Regions from separate parts of the Homo sapiens genome. Here all the other regions are reported to be linked to region 4. Evidence: microRNA targets listed by miRTarBase, many of them from high-throughput screens and not tested one by one. Region 4 holds a microRNA gene; each other region holds the end of a gene's coding sequence.

What was found. Region 4 holds the annotated microRNA hsa-miR-208a-3p (AUAAGACGAGCAAAAAGCUUGU, at 2,302-2,323, shown strand). A microRNA usually pairs through its seed, bases 2 to 8, with sites in the 3' UTR of a target mRNA and lowers its output. Matches are read on the target gene's strand: a 7mer-m8 pairs with bases 2 to 8, a 7mer-A1 pairs with bases 2 to 7 and ends in A, and an 8mer does both.
Region 1: the mRNA of ASAP3 is a reported target of hsa-miR-208a-3p. Seed matches in the 3' UTR shown: 7mer-A1 at 2,886-2,892.
Region 2: miRTarBase lists WWC2 as a target of hsa-miR-208a-3p. Seed matches in the 3' UTR shown: 7mer-A1 at 1,789-1,795 and 7mer-A1 at 2,964-2,970.
Region 3: miRTarBase lists INIP as a target of hsa-miR-208a-3p. Seed matches in the 3' UTR shown: 7mer-A1 at 2,895-2,901.
Region 5: the mRNA of ASAP1 is a reported target of hsa-miR-208a-3p. Seed matches in the 3' UTR shown: 7mer-A1 at 1,807-1,813.

Annotation. Positions count from the first base shown.
Region 1 is chr1:23,426,421-23,430,420 of GRCh38, forward strand. ASAP3 (ArfGAP with SH3 domain, ankyrin repeat and PH domain 3) reads right to left here. Exons shown (of 25, transcript NM_017707.4): 25 at 2,143-3,510. The coding sequence ends at 3,436. It overlaps LOC124903875 (a long non-coding RNA gene), which reads left to right. Exons shown (of 3, transcript XR_007065535.1): 3 at 1,292-2,563. Among named protein-coding and RNA genes, the nearest start is that of TCEA3, 3.7 kb to the left of the region's middle.
Region 2 is chr4:183,315,358-183,319,357 of GRCh38, forward strand. It overlaps WWC2 (WW and C2 domain containing 2), which reads left to right. Exons shown (of 23, transcript NM_024949.6): 23 at 306-4,000. The coding sequence ends at 372. CLDN22 (claudin 22) reads right to left here. Exons shown (of 1, transcript NM_001111319.3): 1 at 2,743-4,000. Among named protein-coding and RNA genes, the nearest start is that of CLDN22, 2.9 kb to the right of the region's middle.
Region 3 is chr9:112,684,073-112,688,072 of GRCh38, forward strand. INIP (INTS3 and NABP interacting protein) reads right to left here. Exons shown (of 5, transcript NM_021218.3): 5 at 1-3,561. The coding sequence ends at 3,466. Among named protein-coding and RNA genes, the nearest start is that of INIP, 32 kb to the right of the region's middle.
Region 4 is chr14:23,386,436-23,390,924 of GRCh38, reverse strand. It overlaps MIR208A (microRNA 208a), which reads left to right and starts at 2,259; the gene lies at 2,259-2,329. MYH6 (myosin heavy chain 6) reads left to right here. Exons shown (of 39, transcript NM_002471.4): 26 at 479-868; 27 at 1,206-1,332; 28 at 1,414-1,532; 29 at 1,870-2,066; 30 at 2,587-2,770; 31 at 3,002-3,167; 32 at 3,272-3,396; 33 at 4,302-4,489. RefSeq lists enhancers at 774-1,377, 1,378-1,981, 4,031-4,489.
Region 5 is chr8:130,051,344-130,055,343 of GRCh38, reverse strand. It overlaps ASAP1 (ArfGAP with SH3 domain, ankyrin repeat and PH domain 1), which reads left to right. Exons shown (of 30, transcript NM_018482.4): 30 at 539-3,240. The coding sequence ends at 613. Among named protein-coding and RNA genes, the nearest start is that of ASAP1-IT2, 31 kb to the left of the region's middle. RefSeq lists a silencer at 140-342.

The sequences.
Region 1 (4,000 bases), not on the chromosome of region 4:
CGCAGAGGCAGCTTGGTGTGGACACCTATCTTCTAATTGCTATGTGACGGGGATCAAGGTAGGACAGAGTGGGTTTTTTTCATCCATTCAACAAATACGTATTGAGTGTCCAAGCAATGAACAAGACAGACCCAGTCCCAGAAAGCTTGAGACTCAGTCTATGGGCAAGAGAAACCTTAAACAAAAACAGACATAGTCAATTAATGCATTTATCATAGCTGGGGTGAAGGGCAGGAAGCAGTGGAGGATAGCTTAAGGACACATTTGAGGGGACCTGCACTATTTAGGGTGTCAACTTCTCTGAAGAAACGAAGTTTAAACTTTGGGCTGAAGTACACAGTGGCCGTTGAGGGGAGGAGGAAGAGTGTTCACGGAAGAAAGGAAGAGGCATTCAACATATATTTATGGAGCACCTAATATGTGCCAGGTAGTTCTTGTTCTGGACATCCAGAGAGGAACAAAACAGTCCTCCCCTCTTGGAGTTCCAAATGTGCAAAGCTTAGGGATGGGAGGGTGCCTGGCCTGCCTGACAGTGTTGGAGGAACTGAAAAATTGGCGTGGCTGCAGCACAGAGGTGAGGAGTGTGGGGAGAGGCAGTGGGTGGGACCTGAGCATGCAGTGCCTGCCGGTCACATTTGGGAAGTTAGACTCTAATGGTTTGGGATTCTCTGGGAGGCCTTTTGGCCAATCCCAGCCAAGCCCTTCTGGGTTGAAGAGACTCAACCTCAGCAGCCTGAGGCTACTTAGGATTGCCTTATTAAAAAAAAGGCCAGGAGCAGTGGCTCATGCCTGTAATCCTAGCACTTTGGGAGGCCAAAGCAGGAGGATTGCTTGAAGCCAGGAGTTCAAGACTAGCCTGGGCAACAGAGAGAGACCTCGTCTCTACAAAATATTTTAAAAAGCTGGGCATGGTGGCGTGGGCCTATAGTCCCAGCTACTCGGAAGGCTGAGGCAGGAGGCTTGCCTGAGCCCAGGAGTTCAAGGTTACAGTGAGCTCTGATTGTGCCACTGTACTCCAGTATGGGAGACAGAGCCATCAAAAAAAAAAAAAAAAGAGAGAGAGAGAGATTTTTCTCAAACTTCCACCCAGTCACCACCCTGAGATGCGCGACATCAAAAAAAAGTTAAGACTCCTAGAATGTCAGGGTATGAAGGCCCCTAAGAAAACATGGAGTCCAACCTCTTTATTGTATAGATGGGAAGACCGAGGCCTAAAGAGGGTGATGATTCTCTCAGGGTTGGACCCTGTTGATACCATCATATCCCCTCTGCCTACCTGTCCACCCTACAGGTCACTGGAAGATAATTCCTGGACACACCTTGGACAGCTCCCCACATTTCTCTATTTGGAGCTTTGGGGTGGTAGGAAATTGATGCCCTCAGAAAGGACACCCCCAACCAGCAAGAAACCAGAGTTGGTGGAAAACATCATTTCTTCACTCTCGATGGGACAACCTGAAGGCATGTTCTAGTCAATACTCCTTCTCACAGGTCCCCAACAAGAGTTAGAGACAGAGTCTCGCTCTGTTGTTCAGGCTGGAGTGCAGTGGCGCCATCATGGCTCACTGCAGCCTTGAACTCCTGGGCTCAAGCAATTCTCCCACCCGAGTAGCTGGAGTATAGGTTCTCACCAACACGCACAGCTCTTTATCTTTGACTTTCTGTTTCATTTCTCTATTCCCTCATTATGCTTCCTGGGATCATTTCACAGATAAGCTACTTGCTCCCAAATCCTTGTCTCAGGGGCAGTCAACAGAGACAGTGGCAGAGGACCATGGGAGAGCTAGAATTTCAGGTCTCCAGACTCCTAGTCCAGTGCTCTTTCCAGGGTTTCTCAACCTTGGCACTATTAACATTTTGGACTGGATAATGCATTGCTAGGGAGGGTTGACCTATGCACCGTAGGATGTTTAGTAGCATCCCTGACCTTTGTCCACTAAATGCCACTAGCATCCTCCAGTTGGGAACAGTCAAAACTGTTTTCTGCTTTATCAGAAGTTCCCCGGGGCAAAACACTGTGGTTGCAAACCACTATTCCACATCAGGCCATCTCCCTTGCCAGGTCCAGAGAAAGAATTTCAAGCCCCAAGATTCCTTTCCCCTCCCTGTTGCTCTTTAGATCACATAAATGAAACCACTGGAAACTGACCCCCCAATCCTTTATTAGAGATGAGTGAAATAACAAGTCTGAGATGAATGAAACCAGACACTGGGGGCTCAAAAGACAACCCTGTTCCTGTGGGAACCACAGACCAGTCAGGTCTCCAGGGGAAACAGCACAGCCTCCCCAGCCAGGCAGCTGTGTTGGCCATTGGTGCTCTCTAGTCTCCCCTGCTTGGCTTGGCCCATTCCTGCCAGGGCCCAGCACCCAGCAACTGGCAAGTTGAGATGTTAGTGGTTGATGATGGCTTAGGTGTATCTGCTTTCTCATTGGGGCTGAGCAATGATAGAATTTCTAGGGCTGGGAAGCAGAACCCTTAAGTCTCTGCCCTCCCAATTCTATTACTCTCCCTTCTTTCTTTGCCTCTCCATTCCCTCAGACTAAAAGGCTCCTGAGTTGACCAAGAGAAAGAGAAGAGAAGTGGGCATCCATCAACCCTGACTATTCCTTTCCTTCCTGCTAAATCAAGGACACAGGCAAATGTGGGTGCATCTGACTCTACAATTTGGCTGGGGAATATAGGAGAATGCCTAGGGAAGGCTGTGCTGTCCCTCAAAAGGAGTGACATTCAGAATATTTTTATTTAACAGCCAGTACAGCATGCATGTTGACCAGCCAGAATGGATGTGATCTGTAGACAATTGTAATGGTCATATAGGTATAAACCAGCTGAGTCCAGAGCCATGCCCTGGAATCTGACCCTGCCTATTCCCAAGCCCAACCCTTAAGACCAGCTTTCCACCAAAGGACCACCCCTGCAGGGCCCTTGTCTTACTCGTGTGGTATCTGAAGTGCCTAACACAGGTCCAGACATAGAGTTGGAATTTAGTGAAGGAATATTAGACTAATAAATGGCTGGCTGAGAAGACAGTCCCTACTTGGCAGGGTCCCTGATCTGGAAGTCAGTGATGGAGGGCTCTCCTGCCCTTGTGAAGCCCCCAGACTGACGGGGGAAATAGAGTCTCGATCTGATGAGGGACTGAGAGTTCTGCAGCTGAAGCCAGCTCAGGAGCACTCAGATCCAGCCACAGGGCTCCCAGGCCCCTAGCGGGTAATGAGATAGGAAAGAACCGCCATCAGTCCTAACAGGGAAAGGCCATGTGTCCTTGGTAGAGGCATGGCCTGTGGCAGGAAGAAGGCCAGCTACAGAGGCACAAGGGACAGAGAGAGTGAGATCCAAGAGAACAAATGTCTCAGCTCCCCAGTTTTGTGAGCTCAAGTCCCAGCTCTGAACATTGGGGCCTAGCATGGGGCATGTGGGGGCCAGCAAGGAGCTAGTCTTGCAAAAGTTGCACAGAACTTGCTGGGAGACTCCCAGTCCTTGAGCCATCTCCTTCAGTGATGCCAACCTGCAGAAAGAAGGATGAAACTGACATTTTCAAAGCACCTGTAACATACCAGGTGTTCATCTCACTCAGTTTCACATCTGTCCTATTGTAGATAAATTAAATTATTCTCATTTTACAGACAAAGAAACTGAGGCTTGAGGAAGTGAAGCCACTTATCCAAAGTCTCCTTACTCTAAAGCCCAAGCTCTTGCTATCATACACACCACAATCACAGGCATCAATTAAATGCCATCTGATGGATACTTGGTTTTCAGGGCAATAGTGGAACCAGAATATGGACATAGATTTGTGTCTGCTGACTAACTCTGGTGGACTAAAGATGACGATTCCCCAGACAGAACCAGCTTTTGCCCCTGCCATCCTGACTCCCAACACAACCAATGCCATTCTGAGGAATTCCCAGAGGAACAAGGGACAGAAGAGGCTTCTTTCCCAACACAACTGGCTCTGATCTGTGCCCACTCCTAGGTTCAACTAATATATGCCATTG
Region 2 (4,000 bases), not on the chromosome of region 4:
ACCCATCCTAGACCAAACCCCTACTAGTTTAAAAACTGTCTTCTGTTGGAAGTTCCCTGAAGGGAACTTACGGGCTTGGTCTGTAGGTGACTTCCGTGATCCAGAGCTGCTGTTCTCCTTGATACCCCCCCTTTAAGCAGGCAGAGGCTCTCCTGATTTTAAATGGAGTTCTGCGTAAGGAAAAGAGCTTCTACCTGTGCTTGCAGAGACATCACTGCCACTGCAGGTCTTGGGGACTGTTTTAATGGTCCCAGAGTATTTTTAGCATCATATATAAGTCAATTTATTTCTCACCCCAACTCTAGGGAGAAGATTGCCTACTTCACCAGAGCAAAGATAAGCATCCCATCCCTGCCAGCTGATGATGTGTGATTACATGACTTAAGAAATTATTTTTTCATCTGTTCACTTTCTTAGGGAGGGTAAAAGACTGAAGATTTGTGTTTTTGTTTTGGTGTTTGGTTTTTTTTGGTAACGTAACTGTCAACTCTTGAAGAACTTTTATTTCACATCAGATTTTCAACACATTAATTTGTAAAGTACCTTGAGTGTAATTTTTATATGCTTAAAAAAGAAAAAATCATATAAGAAAGATGGGATAACCTGGTACACAAATGTTGCCCAGTATGTGCGCATTGCCAGTGGACTTCATTTTGTAAAAATGGAATAGAGGCAGTACCCCACATGTGTACTGTTGAGCCGGCTGTTGAGAAACAACTTGGTTCAGCCGGTGGTTTTGCTTCTCCTTTGTGTTCCTGTGAGTAGGCTGTGCCGATGGCAGCAGCGCCACGTGGTATCTGTGCGCTGGCGAGGAGAGGAGCGCTTTCCATTTGGAGGCAGTGTGAGCACACGCTGGAGTGCAGCGTTCCAAAGTCCGCCCGAAATGGATGCTGCGTCCACGGCCATCACCTGTGCGGGAACACCTGGTTTCCTTAAGACAATTTCCTTTTTGTCCTTTTATATTTTTCTAAAGAAAACTAAGATATAAACTACCAAGTGCTCTTAAGAATAAAAATAAGAATAAGAATACAAAGGAGCACTACTCTTGGCTACACGAAAGATCTTGGGATTCATGACACTGAGGGCAGGGAGAAGAAAGAACACCAGCCACGCAGAGATACAAATAAGCTCATCAAATGAGCAGCTGGTTTGTCTCACTCAGCCTGAATTTGCATTAAGTGTTCAAAAGTGAGTTTCTGGCTTGCACTAGTGTTTTGCCCTAAATCTAAGGATGGTGCCTAGTGGTGGCCCTGTGTTCTGAGGACAGAGAGAGCTGGAGGGGTGGAGGGAAATGCATCGGCACTCATTTGGTGTAACCAAGAAGAGGGGGAAAGATGTCTTGATAGAATCAAAGTTGCCAAAAACAAAGAAGAGTTTATCAAGCAGATTTCTAACATTTAGTAGAAACTACTTCATAGCTCTCATTTTTAGGGGGTTCTATCTATAATTTATGGTAAATAGTTGGGAGGCAAAGGGAAGAATGTGTGTGGGGGGATTATTAATTTGAAGTATAAGCTAAATTGTTTATTAAAAAGCCTATTTTGGATGAACAAGTTTAGAGAGATAAACTGACTAATGTGTCCTCCAGTTTAGAATTTCACCTTACCCGACCCAGGCACTTCTTAAAAACACAGATCCTCAGTGCAGCTCTGCCAGCATCAAGGCTTTTAAAATATGTAGTATTTAGGCCATTTAAACCATACTTATTACTCAATAACCCAAGAAACAATTTTGGGTTAGCCATCTAATATAGCAAATAAAATAGATTTTTTAAAGAAATCCAAAATTGTCTTAAAGGAATGGACCCCTTGAAGAAAAAAAAAAAAAGTTTTGTTCCTCAGTTAGAATGCTCACTAGCTCACTAGCAAGAATTTTTATTTTCTTGAAAGCAATTATATATATTTTGGAAAGTTCATGTTATTGGAATTGAAGTTCAAATTAAGCAACTTCTGAGCCTAGAACTTTAATTACTTTTTCCTAAATGTCCCAACACTTACATACAAATTTCTTTGAAGACATAACTGGACATGGCAGACACTGCTTTGAACAAAAACCAGCCTAGTGAATTGACTGAGTACAGTCCTTTAAGGCTGCCCAGTTCATTCTATTAGATGACTAAGGAAAACTAGAAAAAGAATACAGTTCACCCTTGTCAAGGTCAAATGTGAAAGACAGAAGTTTATTTAATGTAGAGGTAAATGAAGGTGAGCTGTTTTCAGCATCTTAGTTTGACCATGAAAATGTCTATAGAATTATGTGTAGTTGTTCCGTACGATTTTATTTTCTTCATTTATTTATTTACAGTCTTATTTATGTTCTGTTTAATATATAGTTTGATTCTGGCCATTTTAAATATTTGACACAGAAGAGACTATATTGGAATATTTACAGCTTTATAAGTCTTTCATCAGATTAGCTGTTGACTTTTTGTAATACAAAAAGTTTCAGACAAGTATTAAAGAATAAAATCTGTCTCAGGCTGGTAGTTAGCAGTTGTGACCAAGATGCTTTTGGTTGTTGTATTTCACAAAATTTCCTCATTTCTAACATGAGAGATGAACTTATTTTAATATAATCCTTTTTCTACACTTTAAAAGTCAGCAATAGTGTTATGTATTTATAGGCAGCTTTTAATAATCTTGTCATATTTGTACTAACCCAAATGATTCACAGTGACAAAACATTTTAATAACTTGATCACAAAACCATATGGACAAATATGAATTTTAATATTATAAATACTATTTTTAAAAGGTAGAATTTATTCGCACAGGGTAAAAAGAATGTAATATTTAGTTCTCAAGTTTGAATTATCAGTATATTATTACAATTTTGTATATCAGAATCTTAAGTGTTACAGGTACAAAAAGAATATTGCTAGCCAAATGAACAAAGTTTAGCTAAATCTCTGTAGCATGCAAATCAAATAAATTAAAATTTTTTGCTATTGCTTTATCTATATTGTCTTAAATATCAAAAGCTCAGGACTGAACTTAATATTTAATCAGGTTAAATTCTGAACATGTTTCTGTTTTAATTTGTCTTGTTTGTAAACGTATGCAAATACATCACATAGATTAACTGGTTTCTGCACTTTCCATGTGTTTGTGGGTGGAAAAAAATTCAGTGGTTTTTTTTAAAAAAAAAAGCAAAAACAAAGCTACATATTGCCTAATACTCTATTTCAGTGTCGTTTATTGTTCAGTTTATTTCCCTGATTGGCACAAACACAAGAGTTTCCTTGAACCATGTACCAAGCAAATACAAAATATTTCATGAAGAAATCCCCAGGCTGGCAGTTTGTGATGAATAGTTCTTGTTGGAACTATATGTATTGCTGATAAAAAAGGACGAAGTATTTTCATTGAGCAAATAAAATGAAGGGCTCCAGAATATGTGCTCTGTGGTCGCTGCGCCTGGGCTGGCAGTGTGCTCCACAGAGAGGCAGCCGTCCCAGGAGGTTATCTACCCACACACCCCAGTCCTGCCCTGCCGTGCCCCCCACAGGCTGCTCAGTGCCTGGGAAGCCAGAAACGCTGCCCGTGAAATACAGAACACAGGATGCAGAAGCACGTTTGTGTGGCAGAGTCTACTTGAATCATCCAAAACCCAAGATCGCCCTCCTGCCTCTGACAGTATAGAAGGCGTGACTGAATGTGGCTGCCTTTTGAAAAAGGTTCCATAGAGACACTGAGGTCTCTGATTCAGAAGGAGATGATGTGTCTACACCTTTCACCTCTGAAGCTTCTAAAGAGCTAGTAATTATTTTATATAATAAGACGTCATGCATTTTAAATAAATATGCAACAAGACCTCAGGCTTATTATACTAGGTTATCTTAAACACCTGAAATAAGTAAATGATTTGCCAAATGATTCCGCTCCATATGAATAATACCTTCAAAGATACATAGAGATTAATGTTTTATTTACCACTTCTGTGCAATCGCTATTTTAAAATTGAGAAAACTCATCCACAGTAATGGGTGTCATTACTATTC
Region 3 (4,000 bases), not on the chromosome of region 4:
ATTCTTTCATTCCTTCAACATATTGAACACCTACTATATGCCAAATATATTTTATGTGGAATACAGTAGTGAACGAAGTAAAAGAGGAAGAAAGGAAAGGAGGAAGAGAAAGAAATAAACAAAAATTCTTGCTCTCTAAGACTTTACATACTAGTGGAACAGACAATAGACAAAATAAGTAAGCCAGATGCAGTGGCTCACACCTGTAATCTCAGCACTTTAGGAGGCCAAGGTGGGAGGATCGAGAGGACTGCTTGAGGCCAAGAGTTCAAGACCAGCCTGGGCAACATAGCAAGATGCTGTCTCTACAAAAATTAAAAAAAAAAAAAAATTAGCTGGGCATGGTGGCATGTGCCTGTAGTCTCAGCTACTTGGGAGGCTAAGGGTTGAGGATTGCTTGAGCCCAGGGATTCAAGGAGTCTTGCAGTGAGCTATGATTATACCACTGCACTCCAGCCTGGATGACAGAGCAGGACTGTCTCTTAAAAAACCAACACAATACAAAGTAAAATATAGGAACACACAGAAACAGAATATTCATGAGGCAAAACCACCTATTTCTATATGCAGTACACTCAGATGTTTTTGATTTTTTCGGAAAAAATGCTGGTCAATCCTGTTAAACCATTAAGTTGGCTTCTCAACTCAGTAATGGGTTGAGGCTTTTGCACTTTGAAAAACACTAGTCTAGACAATTTCTGACATGGGCAGAGCATGTGCTTGTTCTCACCTTATGGAGGGAGGAACATACAAAGATATTAACTGAGTTCCTCAAATTCACCCATGATCTGAGGGAAGCAATGCTGACCTCCACCTGAGGGCTTCCCAGTCCACTGCTGCCCTTTCCCTCACCCTCTGCAGTGCCTGCTCTTCTCCTCTCATTCTGAAACCTTGCTCTGCACGTGGAGCAGCTCTTCCTTCCCTTGTCAGGTAAAAATCACATGAATACTTCTAAGCCTAGCCAGACCGCACTGCGTTCCAGGATGCCTCTCTCAGGCCACTACTGCATTCTGGCTCGCTTGATTGATTGATTTAGAGACAGGGTCTCACTCTGTTGCCAAGTTGTGCAATCATGGCCCACTGCAGCCTCAACCTCCCAGGCTCAAGCAATCCTCCCACCTCAGCCTCCCGAGTGGCTGGGACTCTATGCATGCACCAGCACACCTAGCCAATCTTTTTTTTTTTTTTTTAATTTTTTAGTAGAGACAGGGGTCTCACTATGTTGCCTAGGCTGTGGCTTGCTTTATAACTATTGGTGTACCAGAATAGGATCCTCTGCACGGTGACCTCCTAAAAGAGCAGGTACCAGTCACCTTTGTGTCCCCCAAAGCACAGTACTTTATCTGTAGGTATTAATAAATACATAGGAAATTGAATTGAATTTGTAACTCAAAGCAGAGGGGTGGAGAGAAGTGCTTCCTAGCCAGGAATACAGGATTTAGGCCATATCTATTTAAAAGAAGACTAACAAACAGACTAGAAACGATAACACTGGTAAAAAGATCTCTTTACCTGAGCTACAAAAGTCATACATTAGGTAGAGGCTTCAATAGTGTAGAAAATATACTAATGTGTTATCTCCTTAGAGACAGATTTAGAACCATGTCAGTTATGTTGCAGATGACAGAGAACAGAAACCTAGTGAAATCAACTCAAGACAATGAGGGCTACCATAAGGAGGCCCAAGGAGTAGTTGGATGGACCTGAGGAAGGACAGGAGCCAGAGGCCCCCTGAGGAGCTCTGCGCCGCAGAAGTAAGGCTATCCTCGCTGCAATGGTGACCATTACAATGGGGACAGTTGCCACCTCATCAAAATGAAGGAAATCAGTTCAAATTCTAAAAAAAACCTACATGGCACAGCCAATTCTAGAATTGTCCACTCTTGCTTCACTTGGTTTGAGTAGGATGGGGCTGTGTGTTTGAAAACATCTAAGGAAGAAAGGGGGGAACAAACTCTCTGAAAAGAAAGTAGAACTTTCACTAAATATTGACCCAAACTGGAATTTTCAGTTTTACGCTACCACCAGAGAGGATGGGACTCAAGGCCAAGATAAGGTCAGTTACAAAAAGTTATATAAAATACTGTATCTGTGATACAGTGTAAAATATCATTTCAATCCTATTAAAAGTTAAAAAAAATGTAGATTTTAGCTAAATGACCTCTAAGTTTCAGGGATCTACAAACCCATGCGTGTATAAATATATCACGAAAATCTGTACAAGATATTTCATAGAATTCTCTATCTCATGGTTTTCAGACTTTATTTTGAATCAGATTCTAATTCTGTAGGACTAGGGTAGGGTAGTGGGACTGCATACTTAAATAAGCACCCCAGATACTGCTAAAGATGGGTCATGTTGAGAGACTTTCTTAACCTAATCCCTTCCTACTTAATTAAAAAGGAGCTCGACTTGCATAAGTTTTCTTTTTCTTTTTTTCTTTGAGACAAAGACTCACTGTCACCCAGGCTGGAGTGCAGTGACACCGTCTCAGCTCACTGCAACCCCTGCCTCCCAGGTTCAAGCGATTCTCCTGCCTCAGCCTCCTGAGTAGCTGGGATTACAGGCGTGTGCCACCACACATGGCTAATTTTTTATACTTTTAGTAGAGACAGGGTTTCACCATGTTGGCCAGGCTGGTCTCAAACTCCTGATCTCAAGTGATCTGCCCGCCTTGGCCTCCCAAAGTGCTGGGATTACAGGCATGAGGCACCGTGCCCAGCCAAAAAGTTTTCAGTTAGAACAAAAATGGAAAACAGAACCACACAAACTCATCATTTATGTGGTAACACTAAATAAGAGGATGTACAAATTAAAAACCTACCACATTCCCTATTATTTTTAATTGCATCTAGTCACAACATTTATAAGAGCATATGTTTATAAAAGATGGTTAAGACTGGTTAGTAATTTATTCTTGAGGTTTGTTTTAAAGTGAAAAAGGGGGAAGTAGTTATAAGTCCAGAAAGAATATTTCAGGATGATACATGTTGACTATAAACGCAAAAGGTATACTGATAGCAATCCTATAAACAGCAAATATGGATGCAATTGATTTAAGCCTATTAGTTCATTTTTTAAAAGCAGCCTTGTTTCTTTAAAGTTAAGTACTATAAATGATTCTTGAAAATCTACTGTGGACATGATATATTCAGTCAAACTTGCTAGGAGTTGGGGAATGACTTCGTGACCATCCAGTTCACAGTCTGATTGAGAGTTAAACAGCATTACAAAAAAGTTACAGTCACGGTACATAATCAATTCCTTGGACGATACAGCTTCCACAGCTCTCATCATCCTGGTTATTCTTCTTTCAGCTTTCACTTACACATTCCTTTCTTTCAGACAAACAAAAAATATCAAAGTTCACCAAAATTCTTAAAGTCACAGTTCATGTAGCACTGAATGATAGTAGCTTTGGCATTTGATATTACAAAGTCACTTTTCCATCGCAAATGTTTTCTTCATTCTGGGTCAAGGCGAGGTAAAACAGGAAGAATAAGGTTCCCAAATGCAGAGTCTTGAGTGATGAAGTATCCAGATGAATGTGCATGAGCATGCTGGGAAAGATTAAAAACAAAAAGGCAATTAAGCTATTAAATAGAGTCACAATTCTTCGACCAAGGCATTAAAATTACTCTTTCTGAATGCTTGAGACCAAATTTATTTGTTTATTCATTTATTTTTCATTGTTATTGCTGAGATGGAATTTATTTTAAAATCAGTTCTTGGCTGGGCGCGGTGGCTCACACTGGTAATCCCAGCACTTTGGGAGGCTGAGGTGGGCGAATCACGAGGTCAGGAGATCGAGACCATCCTGGCTAACGTGGTGAAACCCCGTCTCTACTAAAAATACAAAAAAGTTAGCCAGGCGTGGTGGCGGGTGCCTGTAGTCCCAGCTACTCAGGAGGCTGAGGCAGGAGAATGGCATGAACCTGGGAGGTGGAGCTTGCAGTGAGCAGAGCTCGCACCACTGCACTCCAGCCTGGGCGACAGAGC
Region 4 (4,489 bases):
TTGCAAAGGTATCTGATTGTTTCGAGGCATGTTGTCACAAATATTTGTAAAATACAAGCACTCATTTTCCCGTCTTATGAATAGCGCAACAGAGCCTAGTGAATCTGGGGACTCTGAACTTCTTGATCTCACAGGATACCAGGATCCCCCTTCAACCACAGGTTCTCAGGATTTGGGGCTGCAGATGCTCACACTGGGTCTGAGATGCCCTTGGGAGCTTCAGCCAAATTCCTATTGATGGCCTATGCATTATAGGATGTTTAGTAGCATCCCTGGCCCCTACCCTCTAGATGCCAGTAGCAAGCCCCACCAAGACATGACAATCAGACATTGCCAACTGTTCCCTGGGGCACAAAATTGCCCCTAGTTGAGAACCACTGCTTGAGAGGAACCTAAGTTCCTGGTAGCTTTTCAGAGCCGGGGGGATTCCAGTGGAGGGGTCCAGGCGGTGGGTCTGAGCCCTTTGTGTCTGACCCAGGCACGCATCGAGGAGCTGGAGGAGGAGCTGGAGGCCGAGCGCACCGCCAGGGCTAAGGTGGAGAAGCTGCGCTCAGACCTGTCTCGGGAGCTGGAGGAGATCAGCGAGCGGCTGGAAGAGGCCGGCGGGGCCACGTCCGTGCAGATCGAGATGAACAAGAAGCGCGAGGCCGAGTTCCAGAAGATGCGGCGGGACCTGGAGGAGGCCACGCTGCAGCACGAGGCCACTGCCGCGGCCCTGCGCAAGAAGCACGCCGACAGCGTGGCCGAGCTGGGCGAGCAGATCGACAACCTGCAGCGGGTGAAGCAGAAGCTGGAGAAGGAGAAGAGCGAGTTCAAGCTGGAGCTGGATGACGTCACCTCCAACATGGAGCAGATCATCAAGGCCAAGGCAGGCTCTGCTCGGCCTCCCCTCGCCCTCTCCCCTGCACAGCGGAGCCTCCCCCATGCCTTCTCTCTCTGTCTGCCATCTCCCTTGTCATTCTCATTCTCTTCATCACCCTTTGGTCTCTCTTCCTGTCTCCCCTGCCCCTCTCTGGCTCTCCTCACCCTCTCTATCTCTTCATGTTCCTCCTTTCTTTAATTCAAGTCTCTCTTCAGACTGCGCCCTCCCACACCTTCTGTGTCCCCCTCCTGCCCTCTGGCATTCCCCATCTCTGACCCTCTCTTCCTTCCTCTGGTCGACTCAGCCCCTCCCACACTCACCCTTCCTGTCTTGCTTCCTGAAGGCAAACCTGGAGAAAGTGTCTCGGACGCTGGAGGACCAGGCCAATGAGTACCGCGTGAAGCTAGAAGAGGCCCAACGCTCCCTCAATGATTTCACCACCCAGCGAGCCAAGCTGCAGACCGAGAATGGTGGGTGCCCCTAACCAACCCCCTGCCTAGGGCAGGACATGACTTGTGAAATGGCCCACAAGCCCCTCATTTCACCTCCAGGAGAGTTGGCCCGGCAGCTAGAGGAAAAGGAGGCGCTAATCTCGCAGCTGACCCGGGGGAAGCTCTCTTATACCCAGCAAATGGAGGACCTCAAAAGGCAGCTGGAGGAGGAGGGCAAGGTGAGGCCCAGTGGGGAGGGTGGGCAGGCTTGATGGCAGCCCTGGGGCAATTCATCTCAGTGCCAGAAATGGAGCCTGGAGCTGGAAAGAGTCCTCTGCAAGGGAAAGACCCTCCAGTCTAGGTTCTGCCCTGCAGCTAAGCGTCATTTAATGCCTCTTTTCTTATTCGTAAGGGGATGGGGTGAGCAGACTGGGAAACTCCTCAAACAGTGAGGTGCCACATCAGCCCACATGGTGAATAAGGCTGGGCTTGGTTGAAGTACTACATAAGAAGAGAATCTAGAGAATGGGGCACAGGGAGTCCCTCCCACCTCCTGGTGCCCCCCCCCCTCCCCAGGCGAAGAACGCCCTGGCCCATGCACTGCAGTCGGCCCGGCATGACTGCGACCTGCTGCGGGAGCAGTACGAGGAGGAGACAGAGGCCAAGGCCGAGCTGCAGCGCGTCCTGTCCAAGGCCAACTCGGAGGTGGCCCAGTGGAGGACCAAGTATGAGACGGACGCCATTCAGCGGACTGAGGAGCTCGAAGAGGCCAAGTGAGCTCCAGATACCCCCTTAACCTGACTCTCAGAGAGGAAGGGGCGAGAGGACCTGGGGTGGGGACAGGCAAAGTGGTCATGAGACGGAAGTGGAAGAGACAGGAGGAACTCGGAGGGCAACAGAAGTGCTTGGAAGAAAGCCTGAACTCTTTGCTCTGTGAACTCTGGCTGGCCCTGACCCACTTCCTGTGACGGGCGAGCTTTTGGCCCGGGTTATACCTGATGCTCACGTATAAGACGAGCAAAAAGCTTGTTGGTCAGAGGAGCTACCGTCGATCAGCCTGTGTGGGGGGTGAGGGCAGGGGGCACTGACACCCAGATGCCACTGCAGGTAGGGAGGACGCCTGGGCAGCCCGTGCTGGCGGACTCTGTTCCAGGCATGAGCAGGCTCAGCTCCTGCTAGGCTGGACTTACGGTGTCTCAAGGAGATATAGGGAGGGGGTGGAAGGAGGTCCACCCAAGGCTCCAGTGTTGCCCAGTAGAGTCACACACACACCCTCCACCCTCACCTGGGCAGAAAGAAGCTGGCCCAGCGGCTGCAGGATGCCGAGGAGGCCGTGGAGGCTGTTAATGCCAAGTGCTCCTCACTGGAGAAGACCAAGCACCGGCTACAGAATGAGATAGAGGACTTGATGGTGGACGTAGAGCGCTCCAATGCTGCTGCTGCAGCCCTGGACAAGAAGCAGAGAAACTTTGACAAGGTGGACCATGGGCGGGGGCCGCAGCCAGCATGCAGGGCAAGGGGGCATGAGGGGTTCAGTGAGAGGCCAAAGGCAACCTCCTTGGAGGTGGAGGAGGAGGGCTAAGCCCAGGCTCGGGACCAGGGACAGATCTTGGACATGCGGCTGAGGCTGGGGGCTGGGGCACTGGGAAGCAGGAGGGCTGGGGAGCTAAGGCTGGGGGGCTGAAGAGTGAGCCTTGTCCCCGGGCAGATCCTGGCCGAGTGGAAGCAGAAGTATGAGGAGTCGCAGTCTGAGCTGGAGTCCTCACAGAAGGAGGCTCGCTCCCTCAGCACAGAGCTCTTCAAGCTCAAGAACGCCTACGAGGAGTCCCTGGAGCACCTAGAGACCTTCAAGCGGGAGAACAAGAACCTTCAGGGTGTGCTGGGGGTCCAAGAGGCCAGAGATGAGTTGGTGGGAGGGAGGGCCATGCAGGGGCAGGGGGAACATAGGCTTTGAGCTTTCTGGCCCTCTGGTCCCCAGAGGAAATCTCGGACCTTACTGAGCAGCTAGGAGAAGGAGGAAAGAATGTGCATGAGCTGGAGAAGGTCCGCAAACAGCTGGAGGTGGAGAAGCTGGAGCTGCAGTCAGCCCTGGAGGAGGCAGAGGTGAGGGCCGAGAACTCCCTGCACCCCATCCCTGTTCTGCCGCTGTCTCCCACTTCTCCCTCACCTGGGGGTGACCCTGACCCCAGGACAAAATCTATTCATTCCATATTCTTTGTTCAACATTATCTACCCACTATTCACTACCCATGACTGCCTCCAAAGCCAAGGTCTGCACAAAGGAAAATGTCAGTCTGATTAGAGGCCAAAGGTTTTGTTTCCCACCAGGTTTTAAAAGTTGGAATCTGGCCATAATAATAACCACTTAGACAGTGGGTAGGAGTGTGGGGTTCCAGAGTCAAACAGGCCTGAGTTGGAACACAGCTTGAGGACTTTCACTGCAGCGTTGGGCAAAATCTTTAATCTCTCTCTGCCTCAGTTTTCTCATCTGTAAAATGGAATTAACTGTACATACCTCATATGATTTTACACATGATTATTATAAAGATTAAATGAGGTAACACATTTAAGCACTTAATATATATTAGCTATTGTTACTCTTCATTTCTAAGCACCTGGGAATAGCCCTGAGTTTTCTGGGCTTCTAACTTTTCTCAGGAAAGGGTGAGGGACCTGGAAAACAAGATAAAATTTTGTATTTGTGGTTATAAAAATTCCTCCATTTTCTATAATACTTTAGACAGGTCAGGAATTTATGCAGTGTTAGTGCTGGAGGGTCTGGCAATTGTGAGGTCCAAACCCTTTTCTTGACAGGGGAAGCCCAGAGAGTCCAGCACTTTCTCCCCAATAGCACCGTGGTGGGCATGGGGTGCAGATCCCACCTCCCCATCTCTTCTCAGCTCTTCTTCTCTGGGCGATAGTCCTGGCTGACACCGTGTATCTTCTCATCCTCCCTCTCAACCCTGCCCTGTGCCCTGTCTGCCCGCCCTCGCCCCACCCCTTCCCAGGCCTCCCTGGAGCACGAGGAGGGCAAGATCCTCCGGGCCCAGCTAGAGTTCAACCAGATCAAGGCAGAGATCGAGCGGAAGCTGGCAGAGAAGGACGAGGAGATGGAACAGGCCAAGCGCAACCACCAGCGGGTGGTGGACTCGCTGCAGACCTCCCTGGATGCAGAGACACGCAGCCGCAACGAGGT
Region 5 (4,000 bases), not on the chromosome of region 4:
GCCAGGTGCCATAGCAGCCTTTTCATTTGCTTTTTTTTTTTTTTTTCTTTTTTAAATGTATCACACAAGCCTGGAGAGAAGGGATTTTCTTTAGCCCCACTTAACAGAGAAAAGGCTTAGCAAGGTTTGTGTGAGGTCACCCAGCTGTAAAGGCAGCCAGGCGCCCTGGTTCAGAGCAAGGACTCTAGAGCCCCACGCCTGTGGGAGAGCATGTCACCTCTCTGGGCCACTGTCCCTTCATCTGTAAAATGAAGATTGTAAACTGTATAAGAAATATCCACCTCAGGGGGTTGCTGTGTGGGTACAGCAAGATCCATGTAGAATGCTGAGCATATTGGAAGTTCTGTCGTTTGCTCTTTCCTTATGTAGTTTATGACCGTTAAGCTCTCTGTAGTTCACTAAAGGGTGGGAAGAAGGGTAAGCCTGGGATTCCACCGCCAGGTCTGTGGGCAGACTAGGCTGGGCTCTTACCCACTGGGTTTGTCGTGGGGCCACTGCCTGCTGCCTCCATCCTGACCACTCTCTTTTCTCCCTGCAGATTGGCCACATCGAAGGACAGCCTGAAAGGAAGGGGGTCTTTCCAGTGTCCTTTGTTCATATCCTGTCTGACTAGCAAAACGCAGAACCTTAAGATTGTCCACATCCTTCATGCAAGACTGCTGCCTTCATGTAACCCTGGGCACAGTGTGTATATAGCTGCTGTTACAGAGTAAGAAACTCATGGAAGGGCCACCTCAGGAGGGGGATATAATGTGTGTTGTAAATATCCTGTGGTTTTCTGCCTTCACCAGTATGAGGGTAGCCTCGGACCCGGCGCGCCTTACTGGTTTGCCAAAGCCATCCTTGGCATCTAGCACTTACATCTCTCTATGCTGTTCTACAAGCAAACAAACAAAAATAGGAGTATAGGAACTGCTGGCTTTGCAAATAGAAGTGGTCTCCAGCAACCGTTGAAAGGCATAGAATTGACTCTGTTCCTAACAATGCAGTATTCTCAATTGTGTTACTGAAAATGCAACATTAGCAAAGAGGTGGGTTCTGTTTTCCAGGTGAAACTTTTAGCTCCATGACAGACCAGCCTGTAGTTATCTGTGTACACAGTTTACAGCTACAAAAACCTACTTTGGTATTTATTACAGAAAAGTGCTCAGTTAAATGTAAGTGTTATTCCTTCAGCAAAATATTCACTGACCCAAAACTCTTTATGGCATTTTACAATGCACACAGCCTCATGCAAGTTTAGACAAGTGGATTTATACTGTCTTATGAGTGCCCGCCCCTGATATATTACCTCATTATGCAAAAATAACATATCTTTCATGACTATTTTGACAAAAGTTTAAAACACATATGAAGTTCAAATTTCAGGAACCAAGGACTGCCAGAAAATATTAGCCTCTACATTACGCATGCATTTAGAAGCTTACCTGAAATCTGCCTTTTATAAAGGAATAGTATGGATAAGTGGAATTGTACATTTTTTAAACTTGATTGCCATTAAAGCAGAAATTATAAGGTTGCAACAATATTTGTTTCTAATCACTGGCTTTCTCAAGAGTATGGATTGACATATTGTGTTATGAATGCACATCTCTCAGATGTGTTGAAGCATCCATTGCATCCATTTTTTATTATTTTCTTAGTTTTGTTCTTGGACAAATTTAAACTTTTAAAAGATTATTCAAGATGAATTTAAAAGTCAACCCTTCACACAGTTTCCCTACTGTATGTAGAATCCAGGTGCTGAAACCAAGTGTTTCTTTTCCCATGCTCTTTGTTAAACCCCAATTATAGATAATTTTTCCAGTCTTAAGCTCTGTCCACCTTCAAGTCAATTCATAACCAAGTTTTTGAACGCTGCTATGAATTGCACTGTGAAAAGCACTCTTCCCTCTCAGTTTTCTTTTCATCCCAGCCATGTTTATCAGATCCTTAAGAACATTGTATTTCAGTCTTTTACATCAGTCTGAATTTTGGAAAAGAATGCAATAGTTGTACTCCACAGTCAGTGGAACTGTTCCCTGAGTCCGAGGCTCATGTGTCATTCTGGCACTACATTTGCTTAAATTGCTATTTTGGCAACAGCACAGAAAACTAATATTTTTAAGCAGAGAATCTTGGCAATGAGTGAGAGATGTTAATTTCACAGAAGCACAACTCCCAACCCAACCCTTAGGAAAAGCCCTCTTCCATCGTTACAGTGCTCAGTGAATATTAATTTAGTTCTGCTTAAGTGGTTGCTATACAAACTTTGAATAGCCACCTAATAAATAAACCTTGCATGACAAACCTGCAAAATATTTTATCAGCTGTTATTGGAAAGTGATTTTAAGCAATTGCTTCCTCAGTGTCAGGGCACATGTGAATTTCCACACCAAACAGAGCATGAGGAACCAGTTGACATGCTGGGTTGTGACTGGCAGCTTTAGCAGCCTCGGTACTGAAGCCACACCAGTGTCCGGATGGAAGTCTGCATCTGAGGTTGCTCAGTGTCCCGGTCATTCATTTACACATTTTAACTTGCATTAAAGAGCTGTTCTTTTCTGTGGCCTAGACTCTTTTCACTGATCTCAAAATAAACTGGTTTTTTTCAAAAAAAAAAAAAAAACAAAAACAAAAAAAAAACACAAAAGCTGCATGTCTAAAATTACATGGAGTTAGTGTCTATTCTTTTTCCCCTTTTGCAGCAACTTACACAGCATTTTTAACACCTTTTTTTTCTAGTTTTTTTGTTCGGTTTTGTTTTCCATCAGGAATTTGAGTTCTCTCTAACCCAGCTTACTGTGGGACATAGGAAAACTCAGTAGAAATACCTTTGGTGATCTTGTTGAGTTTAAGTCTGATCTTGATCTTAAACTCAGTAAGCCACTATCTGCAATTTTGTACATTATATAGTATTTTGAAGATATGGAACCTTATGAAAAAAAAATAGCAAATTAGTTCTTTTTCCCCCAGAGGGGAAAGTTATGTTCTGCAAATAGTGTGTGTCTTATTTTACTGTTGAACAGCAATTGCTATTTATTTTTTTATTGCCTAGAACTTCAACATGTTGTATAGGAATCCTGTAGTGCCACTAGTTAAATGCCGAATTCTCATCTGGATGTTACCATCAAACATCAGTACACTTGTCATTTCACATGTGTTTAATGTGACAGTTTTTCAGTACTGTATGTGTTAATTTCTACTTTTTTTAATATTTAAAATTGCTTTTAAATAAACATATTCTCAGTTGATCCCAAACTTCTGAAATCAGGCCATTTTGTGAGTTGTTCACTACCCTGCTGACAGGAGAGAATCAAGGCTTCCTCTGGCTGTGCTTTCGGGTATATAGATGACACAGGTCACTCCAACCCTTGTCAGAGATCACTCTGGATACATAAAAATATGTGGCACTTGCCCCGGCTTACAAACTGTGGGCCTTCGGCCCCTTTCTGTCCTCCACCTTCCGCATTCCACCTCCACCACGTCCACTTGTGCGCCCGTTGATGTGAACAGGGCAAGAAGAGGGTGGAGGGGCACGAGGCTTACATGTTGTCGTGTGGACAGCACTTCTGTCACGTAGCTGTCACAACTAGTGCTGCCACGCAGTGGAGCAGACCTGGCCCAGGCACTCTGCCTGCATTAACCCCTGAATCCTTAGCAAGCCCAGGAGAAGCGTGAGCCCCTCAGCTTTACAGAGCTGACAAATGAGGCTCAGAGGCATTCATTCACACACAGGAGACATGTGGCTTGTAAATCACTAAGGTGGGAGTGCACACAGGTGGTTCTGGCTCCAAGGCCATCCTTGCAATTCCCACTGCCTGGAAGACACTCTCCTTTATGGAGAACCACAGTGGCGGAAAGCAGGCCGAGACTGCGGCAGGGAGGATCCCGAAGTGCTGGTCTCAGCATTCCTTCTGTCATCTTTCATGGAAGTTGGTAGACATGGCTGGGCACGGTGGCTCACGCCTGTGTTCCCAGCACTTTGGGAGCCTGAGGCGGGTGGATCACCTGAGGTCAG